Linked DNA regions of Homo sapiens: regions 1 and 2 are each linked to region 3. The links come from fine-mapping of genetic effects on gene expression. A gene starts in region 3. Each other region holds a variant in brackets. All regions are shown on one strand. Distances are from middle to middle.

Evidence for each region. PIP is the estimated chance that this variant, and not a neighbour inherited with it, causes the effect.
Region 1: its variant is the best candidate, but not a certain one, in a credible set for the expression of PHF2 in whole blood (INTERVAL, PIP 0.79).
Region 2: its variant is the best candidate, but not a certain one, in a credible set for the expression of PHF2 in lung (TOPMed, PIP 0.83).

Annotation. Positions count from the first base shown.
Region 1 is chr9:93,628,872-93,633,014 of GRCh38, forward strand. It overlaps PHF2 (PHD finger protein 2), which reads left to right. Exons shown (of 22, transcript NM_005392.4): 2 at 1,099-1,184. Among named protein-coding and RNA genes, the nearest start is that of MIR548AU, 36 kb to the left of the region's middle. The variant T/C (reference allele first, on the strand shown) is at 1,662.
Region 2 is chr9:93,681,130-93,685,272 of GRCh38, forward strand. No RefSeq gene overlaps it. Among named protein-coding and RNA genes, the nearest start is that of MIR548AU, 88 kb to the left of the region's middle. The variant G/A (reference allele first, on the strand shown) is at 2,392.
Region 3 is chr9:93,574,945-93,579,087 of GRCh38, forward strand. PHF2 (PHD finger protein 2) reads left to right here and starts at 1,640. Exons shown (of 22, transcript NM_005392.4): 1 at 1,640-1,927. The coding sequence starts at 1,830. RefSeq lists enhancers at 1-542, 543-1,137, 819-1,098, 3,280-3,429 and silencers at 1,199-1,258, 1,369-1,668, 2,259-2,418.

The sequences.
Region 1 (4,143 bases), 54 kb after region 3:
ACATGTTACAGATGCCCATTCTCACGTCACTTTTTTTTTGTTTGAGATGGAGTCTCATTCTGTTGCCCAGGCTGGAGTGCAGTGGTGCAATCTCGGCTCACTGCAACCTCTGCCTTCCAGGCTCAAACAATACTCCCACCTCAGCCTCCCGAATAGCTGGGATTACAGGTGTGTGCCACTGTGCTCCGGCTAATTTTTTTTGTATTTTTATTACAGACAGGGTTTCACCATGTTGGCCAGGCTGATCTCGAACTCCTGACCTCAAGTGATCCGCCCACCTCGGCCTCTCAAAGTGCTGGGATTACAGACATGAGCCACCGTGCCTGGCCTCATGTCACTTTTAACTAAAAAAAGTATCAGAATAAAACAAAGCATTTCCATTTTGCTGGGTTAGCTTCTGTAGAAGTTTATTGATGTCTTAGGTTGTGTCCTTTGATACTCTTTGTGTTCATTCCTCAAATGGCTTAAGGCCTGTAGCCCGACCATCTGCATAGGAGGTGGCTCTCTCTTGTTCTAAGTCTCCAAGCAGGTTTGCAAGGGGTCTGGAGGAACTCCAGGGAGGGAATGAGGAAAGAGTGGTCATGATGTCTGGAGTCCTGGACATGTCCTAAGGCCAGGCTGGTAGGCCTCTTCTTGGCCCCCATGAGGATGAGCTGGATGGGTGGCTATGGTATGGCCCACAGGAGGGGCTCTGAGCTGCCTCTGGTGTTTTCTGCCCCCTCAGGTTACCCCTGGTGAAGTGATGGGGACAGCCTGGCTCTGAGAACCCCTCTTCCTTCCCTGCCCCCTGGGTGACGGGGCATTGGTGACCCTCACCCAGGCAGGCTTGGTAGATGGCCTATTCATTGGGTCCTCATGGTGGGGCATATCCAGACGCTGTATCTAGGTCCAGGCTGCAGAGGCCTTTCCAGGAGGACATCTCTGCAGCTCTTTCCCTCCACCCTGCTTTCCTAGTAGAACACTGTCCCTGCACAGCTGTGCTCCATCTGGCCCAGGTTCCCAGACAATGAGCAGGGATTCTCCCTAGAGCTTCGCAGATGGAAAGTGCTTGAGGGGGTGCTGAATGCCTAGGTAATGGTCTATTTCGTCTCGTTTCAGCTGTGTTGGGGTGGAAGAGGAGGAGGCGCCCGACATCGACATATACCACTGCCCAAACTGTGAGAAAACCCATGGGAAGTCCACCTGTAAGTACCGCAGCCCAAGCGGCCATCTCTTGCGGAAGAGAGCAGCATCCACCCTGCCTGGGCTGCGTGGAGGGTGAGGTCTCTGCTGGGCCTGGGCCCTGGGTTGCTGGGGGCAAAACGCCCTGAGTAGTGTCTAGGCCTGGGGACCCTGCCAGCCTAGCTTACTGTCCCCTGTAGCCTCACTAGGCCCACTGTAGCCCCTCCTGATCAGCTCCCGCTGGCAGAGGCAGCTGTGCAAAGACTCAAAGGGCCTTCTGAGGCCTAGCGAGAGGCCAGGCCAGCCTGAGTTAGGGGGACACGGACTTGGGGACCTGGATAAATGGTGATGCGGGGGTTTTCTAGGGGCCCCCAGCCTAGCCCGGCCCAGCCAGCCACTGCTACACGGGGGGCCCAGCCTGTCTGTTTTCTGGGCACGTGCATTGTTGGTGGGCTCTGTCCTCCCCTCCTTTTCCAGCCCCGCCTCATGCCACCCACCTC[T/C]TCCTCTGCAGAGAATCTTGGAGGGCCCTTGCCTTTCCCACACAACCTGCTGTTTGTGTGTCCTAAGGGCTGAGGCTTCGTTTTCTTCTTGGCCCTTTCAGGTGTGCTGGGTCCTGGGATACAGGCTTGGTTCACCCTGTGCAGGTTCAGCCAGGTGAGCTGGAGGTTATATGAGCCTTGAGCTCCAAGCCTCAGCCCTGGTTGCAGAGGGGGAGCTGTGTGGTGGTCTGCAAGGACTCGGGAGGGGTGTGGCCTGTAGACAGGACAGATGGTATGGATATGGGTGTGCGTGTGTTAATGTGGCCTCTGGTTTCCACTTCACTGGAGGGTCTTGGGTGCTCACAGAATCTGCAGGCTGGACATGGGCCCTGGCTGGGTCAGCTGATCACATCTCTGCTGACCTGAGCCCTGGACAAGGTGGGGCAGGAAATGCATCTGGCTCCAGGTCACAGCCAGTCTGAGTCACTCCCCTTCAAAGGGAGACCCCTCCCAGTGCCCAGTTGCAAGCTGAAGCACCAGACCCCCGGACCCCTGTGGGATGAGTCCTATGGAATCAGTAGGGGCAGAGGGAGGATGCGGGCAATAGGTGGAAGGGGCTCCAGCACCCCTGTTCTGTGAGCTGAGGCTGGGTCGAGGGAGCCTTGGAGGCCTGGCCTGGCAGCTGGTGATGCTGGGTCTCACTACTCTGAGGACCTGGCTGCTCTTTCTTGGCCTCTCCCAAGGCCTGAATGCTTTTCTCCTGTCTATTGCTGGACAGCGGTGGGGGCTGCATGTGTTTCAGGTCTCGACCCTATCCCCAGCACAGCCTCAACAAATATGCAAGCGGGTGATGAGGAGAAGCTAGCAGCTAGCAGCTCTTCCTGAACTTTCAGGCTGATAGTTTGCCTGTGGGGAGGTTCTGGGATTCCTAAATTGCCTTCTTACTCCTGGTCCCCAGTAGTTGGCTGCATTTATGCTCAGAATGCATCTGCCTACGGCAAGCTCATTAACCTATCATCTGGTTATTGCTCAAAAACAGATAAAGGGTAGGAAGGTTCAGCCCAGCGGGGCATCCTCATGCTTCTGGCACCTCAATGAGCCCACCCAGAAAGCTCAGGGCCAAGCTGTCTTTACGACAGGAATGACACAAACAGGGCTGAGCTTCCAGTGGGGACCTGGGGCTGCCCCATGGGGCCTAGGGGGCAGGTGTCAGAGCAGAGTAGGGTTGGAGCCAGGATACCCCAGGAGGTGCTTTCCTGGGGGGTAGGACCCTCTCAGGTCCTACCTGAGTTGGGCTTGGGAGGATGCTGGGGTGGCGTTGCTTTTGTGTGGGAGGTACACGTGTGCATCACTTGAGAAGAGGCTTTCAGACTGGTAGAAAAGAAAGTGTCAGAAACCCCTGGGCCAGGGGCCTCTTCTGATAGTCAGCATACATTTCAAGGGGTCCTTGCTTGGGGGCTCTTGCATGAGTTGGGGCTGGGGTAGAGCAATGGTGTGGTGCTGGGGCTGGGCAGGTTTCACATATTGGTGAGCACACTGTTTTGATTTCTCTAATGTCCCCAGACATCCCCAGAAACAGCCCACCTGCCATGGGAGCCCTGTGTGCCTGCCTCACCCAGACCCTGCCCCTGTCCCTGCAGGGAGTTTGGGCAGAGGCCTGGTGTCCCAACCTGCCCTTGATTGCAGCTAAAACCTCAGTGCAGGCTCCCCTTCCTGTCTCCTACGGCCAGCTGCCCAGGGAGAGACATTCTAGACTAGCAGACAGTGCTGAGGTTGCAGATGGTGGGACCCCCAGCCCCTGCCTGGCTGTACACATGTGTGTGTGCATGTACATGTATGCTTACATATTTGTGCATGTGTATGTGTGTGTGCATGTGCTTGTGTGTATGTCATACTCTGTTCAGGCTGCCGTAACAAAATACCACAGACTGGAGGGCTTAAGTAATAGAAAATTTATTTCTTACAGTTCTGGAGGCTGGAAGTCCAAGATCAAGGTGCTGGCTGATTCAGTGTGTGGTGAGGGCCTGCTTCTGGTTCATAGACAGTGCCCTCTTGCCATGTCCTCATATGGTGGAAGGAAGGAGGCAGCTTTCTGGGGTCTCTTTTATAAGGACACTAATCCCATTCAGGAGGACTTTACCCTCATGACCTCATAACCTCCCAAAGGCCCCACCTCATAAAATCATCACCTTAGGGGTCAGGATTTCAACAGATAAATTTTGGTGGGATGGATATTCAGTCCACAGCTGTATGTATGTGTGTGCATGCACACATCTGTGTGCTGAATGTGCTATATAAATTCTCTGAAGCAGATTTTCAGTTGTTACTGAAGTATGTGTGCTCCATCAGGGACAAAGGTACACAGTTCTAGCACCTTCCACCAGTGTGCATGCTCAGATTTGAAGTGAGTGTACACTGTGCCCAGAGGCTATGATGCCCCAGTTGGTCTTTGCATTTACTCCAGGCACGCCTTGCACACCAAGGCACACTGGGGATAAGAGGG
Region 2 (4,143 bases), 110 kb after region 3:
TTCTGCGGCTGCCCAGCATCTCCTGGAGCCCAGGCTCCGCCCTGTGCTGCACTCGGGCCGGCCCAGTGTCTCGAGCCCAGCCCCCACTGAGTGCCAGGCAGCCTGTGAGCCAAGTGTCATGCAAGGATCCTGCCCAGGTGTGCGGCACACAGACCTGGACATGCATCTCTGGGTGTGCGCCTGCAGCCGGGAGGCCAGGGGCCCATGTGGCCCCAAGCATGCCCCTAGCTGTGGCTCTTCCCCTAACCTTGGTGTCGGTGCTGACTGCCCTATGACAGTGAAGTTGGGAGGGTGAGGTCTGGGAGGGAGCTGCCGACCAGCAGCGGACTTTGTGGGTCACGCCTCTGAGATTCAGGCCTGTCTGTCCCTGCAGCCTGCCCAGCTTGGCCTGAGCAAGTTCAGTGCGCAGTGCAGTGAACACACACAAGCAAACTGCCCCCGGTCCCGCCCTCCAAAGCTCGCTGGATTCCACAGTTGTTTACTGAGTGGCTACTGTGTGTCCGAGACTGTGTGGAGAACCTGCCCCAGACTTCACCATGACTGACAACCTGGGGCAGGTGTTATCATCAGCCAGTTCTGCCCAGGAGTCCACCGAGGTTCAGAAGAGGCACCCGCTGCTCACGGTAGAGCGGGACCCACACCTGCCGCCTGGACCACAGGATCACAGGACCACAGGACAGCGTGTGGGGGAGACATGCCTCCAGGTGGGAAGGGCAGGTCTCCAGGGGCGCCTGGAGCTGACCATAGAAAGTGATGTTTCTAGCAACATGAGCAGAGGTAGAGGCAGGCAGCAAGACCCTGGGGTTGTCAGACATGGGCCCTGTGGGCTGAACAGAAAGGAGAGTCTGCAGCGGCTCAGAGCAGGGCCCTGGGGCCACCGTCACAGTGGAGGGATGCGTCAGGCCCTTGGGGAGCCCCGCAGTTCGGGAGCAGGTGGAGTGAGCTCTCCAGGACTACAGCCTGCTGCTGGTTGGCCAGAGGCGAGGGACTCTTCCCCTGCCCCTGCCATGTGCCCATCATCTCCATGCCTGGTGGGGAGCTCAGAAACTCGGCCAGGTCAGTCTATTCTGCAGGACCCTGCCTATATATGTGCCCACATCCTTTCGCCCCGGCTGGACCCAGAGCCGGTCCCTGAACCTGCAGTTGGCAAAACAGGGTTCAATTTGCGAACCTTTGGGGCCATACCCAGAATAACCACCGGGGGGCAGGGCAGGGCCGGGAACAAGGAGGACAATTGTGTGAGGTTATTTAGTGCCTGGGGCTGGGGCGGGTGCTGGGACTTAAGGGCTAATGGCAGGCGTGATGGTAACTATGGGCCAAAACAACAACAACAACAAAAAAACAAGCATGCTGTGAGTGCTGGGAAGGAAGGCGACAGTAAAAATCAGCTCAGCTTAGTCATTGATGCACATGTGCTCTGTTACCTTGTTCATGCTTCACAGTCGCCCCCCAAGGGAGATCCCCTGAGCGTCTCTATTTTACTGATGAAGAAACTGAGGCACAGAGTCTCTCAGCTGCTAGAGCAGGAATTTACGTCCAAGCAGGTCAGCTCCAGGGCCTTTGGGCTTATAAGTGAGACCTGCAGAGAGACATTCTGCAGCCAGCAGCCAGGAGGCAGCTTGCAAGGCCTGCGGAAGGAGGGCTGTGGGTGTGGGGCAAGGGGCGGTGCAGGAGCAAAGGCCCTGAGGTGTATGGCTGCAGCGAGGGCCTGAGCCAGTGGAAGAGCAGGGTGTAGCTCGGAGCTCAGCTAAGGGGCACCAGCGCTGTCTCCACAGCGGCTCTCTCTTTACCACCCCTTTCCCCTAGATAGGCAGGTCTCTTTCCCCTGCCTGCCCCAGCCTAGCCTAGCCTGAGCTCTGTGCCCATCCCAGACTCTGCACAGCCCTGGGCAAGGAGCCTGATTTGTGGATGGTGACACTGAGGCAGGTCTTGTCAAAGACATATGGCTGCCAAGGGTCTCTGCCCTCCTTGTTCGCAGTATCAAGAGGCTGGAGGGTAGTGTGGAAGGGAGAGTTGAGAGGGCTTACGGTACAGGGTTAAAAAGAGAGAGAGAGATGTTGCTGATTTTAAAATCCAAGCTGTGTTCCAGTCTTCGCGAAAACAGTCTCCTTAATAATAATTCCCAGTGGTGACGGTGACATAAGTACTCAGACGGAAGGTCTCAGATATCCGGGTCCAATACCGCTGGTCTTGTCCAGTGACCCTGTGGCCAGTGTGGTCACAGTTCCTGAGCACCTACTGTGTGCTATGCAGGGCACTACAAGCTTTCCTCTGGCTGGCTGACCACTTAGCATGCTCCCTAAGCCCCGGCCCATGGAGGGAACAGGGCTGGGTCATGGGCTGGGCAGGCTTAGACAGTCTGGCCTGGGGGGCCTTTGAGCAGAGCCTTGA[G/A]AGCCTGAGAGAAGAGTGTAAGCAGAGGGGACAGCCTGTGCCAAGGCCCTCAGGCAGGAGCCAGCTTGCTGGGGAAGAGCCAGGAGGCAGTTAGGTGAGGAGAGGGCACTGAGAGCCAGCAGGGCCAGGGTTAGAGGGAGGCTTCATCCCCTCAAGCCCTTGGCAGGTCCTTGCCCAGCCTGGCTGTGTGGCCTTGGAGGACAGCCTCAGCCTCCTCATCTCCAGAGTGGGGGTGATGGCGCTGACCCACATAGAGTTGCTCCAGGGCCCACGCTTCCCTGTGTGCCCCCCACTTCCCAACAGCCCCTTGTGGAGCACTCTTCTACCCTTCTGCAAGCCCTGCTCAGAGGGTCTTGCTCACTGTGTGACCTTGGGCAGGTCACTTTCCTTCTCTGGGCCTCTTTTTTTTCCCTCTGCCTTGCTGACGGCAAGGCTGCCTCCACCCGGAGGGGCAGGGGAGGTTCCCACTGGAGCTGAGGCAGGGGAGAGGTGTCCTCACCCAGGCCTTGACTTCTGCCCTCTAGGCCTTATCGAGAGTGGTGATGGCCTGCAGCGCTGCCTTGGGCGACCAGGCCTGGCCCGAGAGCTTCCGTGGGTGGACCTGGCACTGAAGCACAGTAGGAGGTGCAGGGGAAACCATGTCCTGGACCTCAGGCCTGTACTGATGCTTAAACACTTACTGATTTCCAGTTTTCGGTTCTTTCTCACATTTTGCAGTACATTTTTTTCTTGGCCGCAACTTAAAGTTTTTGTCTGCAGAGCCCTGTGGCCAGAGGGACTGGCTGTGGTGACTGGGGTGCAAGGTGGGGTGCCCTCAGGGGCCCAGCTGGGCTGCGGATGCCTGATGGATGCCCCCTGGCAAGCCCCAGCTGCCCCATTGAGCCACCCATTGCCCTTGAACCCTCTTCCAGGCCGAGTCCCACCGTTGCCTCATCCAAACAACCCCAGCGATGCCACCTCGGTAGAAAAATGATGCTGTTCCATTAACATCTGACACGGATTTGCAGGCCCCAAACAGACGAGCGAGCTGTAAACACCCGGTGCTGGCTGGGCCCTCGCCCGGCCTCCAAGTAGGATCCTTGTCATTAATCGTCCTCCCGCCGGCCAGGCTGGGCCCTGGGCCCCACTGTCCAGCCAGTGCTATTCCAAAATCAGAATCCTCCTTGTCCCCTGCAAACTGCATTTACCAAACAATGGACTCGCCGGCTTCGCAGGCAGGAGCAGAAAGAGAGCGTGCACCCCACTTCTGGTGCTGATGTGGGTGGTGGAGGTCCTGGTGCTGCCTTTGCCCACTGTATGACCTGGGGCCTTGACTTCCTGCCTATAAAATACAGCAATACCCCTGGTTTCCTGAGGGTCTTGTGAGAATGAGAATCGAGGGCCTGGTGTGCCACGATTCCACCTGCCCGGTGTGCTCTTGGGGACAAGTCTCTCAGGCTGCCTGGTTGGGAAGGGTGGGCTGCCAAAGGGGCCGGCAGCTCCACAGAGCCCTCTTGTCAGCACGCCCTGCCTGGGAGCAGCCCACTGCGGTGCTGGGTGATTTCTGCTCATTGTGGCTGATTTAATAAGTGTGTGAGGCCACCTCCATGTTGTTACCTATATCTTTTTATCCAGAAGAGGAAGGATTTTGTCCATGTGTTGTCCAGGAGTACCATGTGTGTACACCAATGTGAGGTTTTGTCCACTTGTGAAAGGGAAATCTTACATAAATGTGCAGTGACTCACATATTTGGTAGAGGAAGCTTTGGTCTG
Region 3 (4,143 bases):
AAAAAAATTCCAGGCTTTCACCCAGGAGGAAGGGAACCAGTGACAACCGGAATTCAGGTAGGAAGGCCTATTGCAGGCCATCCTGGCCAGTCCAGAGGTGTGGGAGCTGGGGGTCTCCTGCTCTTTCCTCTCCCTCTATGGCCAGCTACTTCTCCCCCCGCCCCCTTCCCCAGTGCCCAGTGCTTTGGGCACTGCCCTGAGTCTGTATCCACGGGGTCACTTGTTGGGGGTGGGTGGCTGACTCTGAGGGTAGATTTTGGCTCAGTAGGAGGAAGGACCTTAATTGAGCCGCCTGCGGTGGAGCAAACGGCCCCTTGGCAGCTGCAGGTGGGCGGTGATGGTGAGGGGCTGAGGGGCTAAGGAGCCTTGTCATGGATGCTGCTAGGAGACTGAGCCAGGTTTCCTGTCCGGAGATTCTGGAATTCCGAGCAGGGGTGGCCCACATTTCCCAGCACGATGCGGATTTTGCTGAGGGAGGATGGGGAGAGAAAGAGGGTGAGGGAGGAAGGGCGGGCAGGGATGTGGCCCCTGCCCAGCGCGGATGCCCCAAGGATGCAGCGCTGGCGAGGCAGGGAAGTCCTCCTCTAGAACGCGTGCAAGTGACCCCTCAGAGCGCACCTCCGCTTCTCCTCCCCACCGTGGGGGCTCAGTTCCCTGGACACGGGGGCCAGGGTTCCCATACTCCTCGCCCCTTAGGTCACGGGCCTGGGGGGCTCAAATGCCAGGGAGCTCTCTCTTGACAGAGCTGACCAGCCCGGCCCCTTAGGTCACGGGCCTGGGGGGCTCAAATGCCAGGGAACAGAGCTGACCAGCCCGTGCCAGCGCACTCCCGGCCCGGGCTTCTGTCCTCTTCCTCTGGGGCTGAGCATCAGGGAAGTCCGCGGGATCCTGCGAGGGAGGCGGCAGTCCCCAGCCGAAAATGAGGGGAAAGAGGAAGTGGTGTCCCAACCAGAAACTCAGTGGGGAACGGAGGGAGGCAGCGCGGCCGAGGAGGAGGAACACCCCCACCGTGGTGGGGGTCAGAAGAAAGTTAGGGCCAAGTATTTGCTTGTCGGCCTTCTAGACTAGGAAGGCTCTCCTGCGGGCTCCACTCCCGCACCCCGCGTCTCTCCTTCTGCCTTGCCCGGGTTCCCCCAACTTATCTTATCCTCGGGGTCCCGCCCACCTTCTCCCCGGGGTCCCACCCCACTTTCAGTCTCAAGGCTCCCCCAGCTCACCTTCGCGCCCGCGGACCCCTGGGTCTACCTTCAGCCTTGGGGGCCCTTCTCGGCCTATCTTCCACCTTCGAGATCCCCCCACCCGCCTTCTCCCCCGGCAGGGTCCCCCCGGCCGTCTTCTCCCCCGGCAGGGTCCCCCAACCCACCTTCTCCCCCGCAGGGTTCCCCAGCCCGCCTTCCCGGCGGCGGGAGCGGCGGCCCAGGCCGGCGGGCGGAGGCGGCGCCACCCGGGGCGCTGACGTAGAGGCCGCTCGGCGGCCGGGGGTCCCTTCGGTGGGGCCGCGGCTCCCCGCCCGCCGCCCCCGCGCGTCCATTCCCTTTTGTGTCCCGCGCGCGGCCCGTCCCCCGCGCACACTAGCGCCCTGAGCCCCGCGGGCCGGCGGGCGGCTCCCGGCGCGGCCCCTCCAGCCAGCGCGCCCGGCATTGTGTGGACGCGCCTGGCCGGGAGCGCGCGCGGGGGCTGTCGTGCGCCCCCGTCCCCGTCCCCTCCCGGCCGCGGCGCCGCCTGCGCCCCGCCGCCCCCGCCGCCCCCGCGCGGCCCGGCCCCCGGCCCGGCCCGGACCGACCCGGGCAGCGCAGCGGCGGGGCCGAGCGGCGGCGCGGCGCGGCAACATGGCGACGGTGCCCGTGTACTGCGTCTGCCGGCTCCCCTACGACGTTACCCGCTTCATGATCGAGTGCGACGCCTGCAAGGACTGGTTCCACGGCAGGTGAGCGCGCGGCGGCTGCTCGGCTCGGCCCGGCCCGGCCCGGCCACCTTGCCCGACCGAGCCCCGCGCCCCCGGCTGCGCGCCCGCAGGCCCGGCTCGGGGACGGGCCGCCGCCGCCGCCGCCGCATTCCGGGCGCCCCGGTCGGGGCTGGGCCGTGCCGGGCCGCGCGCCCTTTTGTGCCCAGGGCGGGGGCGCCAAGCACGGGGCCCGCGCTGGGCGCCCCTGGCCGCCGCGCACAAAGCGAGGCCCGCGGGCCGGGAGGTGGGCTCGGGGCTCGGGGCGCGGGGAAGTTGGGGCTCCAGGCCCGGGCCGGGCCGCCTGTCAGCTGGGTCGCGGCGGCCGCAGAGGCCGGGCATCCGGAGGGAGGCCGAGGCCCGGAGCCCCCGCCGCCTCCCCCCTGCGAAGTTGCAGGAACTTTCCCCGCGCGGGCTCGGGGTTGGCCGGGCCGGGAGAAGCGGGCGCGCAGCCCGGCGCGGGTCCCGGGAGAGGCGCGAGTGGCGGGCTCCGACTCCGGCAGGGCTGGGGAGTCCGTGGGGGCTCCGGCGAGGTGGCAGCCGGCGCGCCCACCCTCCGCCGTGGCCGGCGAGCTCCCTTGGACCTTGTCCCCGAGGGCAGGACCCCTCCCGGACCCCCGCGGAGCAGCTAGACCCGGCAGGCCTGCAGGTCCGCGGGCAGGAGTGCGGTGACAGAATAGTGTCTGTGAGTTGGGTAAGGGGGGTTTGTTGTGGCTTTGCCACCTCCTCCCTGGCCTTCAGTTTTCCCCGTTTCTCTCCTCTCCGTTCCCGGCAGGAACGCCGGTTTTGACATGATCTTATGCTCCCTAAGGAAGATGGGGAGGGGGGAAGGAGGTAACGCTTGGAGACACTGAAAACCCCCGCCCTCTTGGCCCTTGCCGATGGCCATGACCTGGCCCCATGCCTAGGGCAGGTCCCTTCCCACCAAGAAGTAAATGGAGGAGGAGGAAGAGGAGGTGACAGTGTTGCCCAAACTGCTCCAACAGGTTCTCTTGCATCTGACTTTGCCTGTGGGATGTGTTTGGACCCGGGGCTGGCCAGGGCTGTATGCCCTCTGGGGCTCCAGTCCCAAACCACCGGCAGCAAGCAGCCGGGGGAAAGAGAGGGGTGTGTGGTGGTGGGTGGTCCGGGATTCTCCTTCCAGAGAGGAGATCCTCCTGCAGGTTCTAAGACTGGGTCTTCAAGACTGGTCAGTGGTGCTTAAGAGTGGGCTGTGGCCCCAAGTCCAGTCCTGCCAGTTTACATGTGGGGACCTGGGTGGCTGGGATGTGACAGGGCCTGCTATGTCTGTCAGCCCCAGTCCTGAGTCCTACCTCCCTGCTGTTAGAAGGGCCTGGGACTCTGTGGGGTGGGGATGCCCACGGAAATCTGGGCTGCCTTCCTGGGTATGCCCAGGGCTGTGGAAGCCCCTTAGAGCAAGGGAGACTGAGTGTGAACACCGGGCTCTGCCCAGAACAGGGCTGACATGCACACCCTCAACTGGCAGCCGTTGAGAAGTTCATGGCCGGGCCAAAGTGAGTGAGAGCCTCTAAGGCTCCTCATATCCAGGGATGCTGAGCTGCTGGCCCTGAAAAGCCCTGAAAGTGGTGGGGCCTCTGCCTTCTCCCCCATCTCCACCGGAGCCCTGACCTGGCGAGCGCAGTCACTCTGCTACAGAACCTTCTGGGCACCTGTGTCAGCTCCTGGCTGCTGCCCACACTCGGGGCCCAGAGTAGGGAGAGTGAGAGAACGCGAGAAGACCTTTGTCTCGCTGCTTAGGGGACCCTCTGGGAAGGGAAGGCTAGTTCTGAACTAGACTTCGAGGCCAAGGGAAAAACTCCAGGAATGAGGGGCAGGCAGGCGACAGGGGCTGAGAGCTGGCCTGAGAGCTGGTTGGTGTCATTTGCTGTATTGGCCCATGCAAAAAATCCCCAAAAGGGGGATGTCTGGGGAGGCTCTAGCTCCTTTTTTTCTTATTTGAGGTCTCTGATTGAATCCAATACAGGCAGTTGATCAGCACAGATTTATTCTCACCTATTTGGGGTGGCTGTGGGGTCTGAAAGAAGCTGTGCTTTCCCTCGGCCATGAAAGTCATTTTCTCCTGCATCTAACCAAGAGTCATCTGCCAAAGTGAACCCTACAGGGAGAAAGCCTCTGGGTGTGCCTGCTCCCCAATTGTTCTGGGCAGGTGTGTGATGGGGAGGACAGCCGTCAGGGGTTGG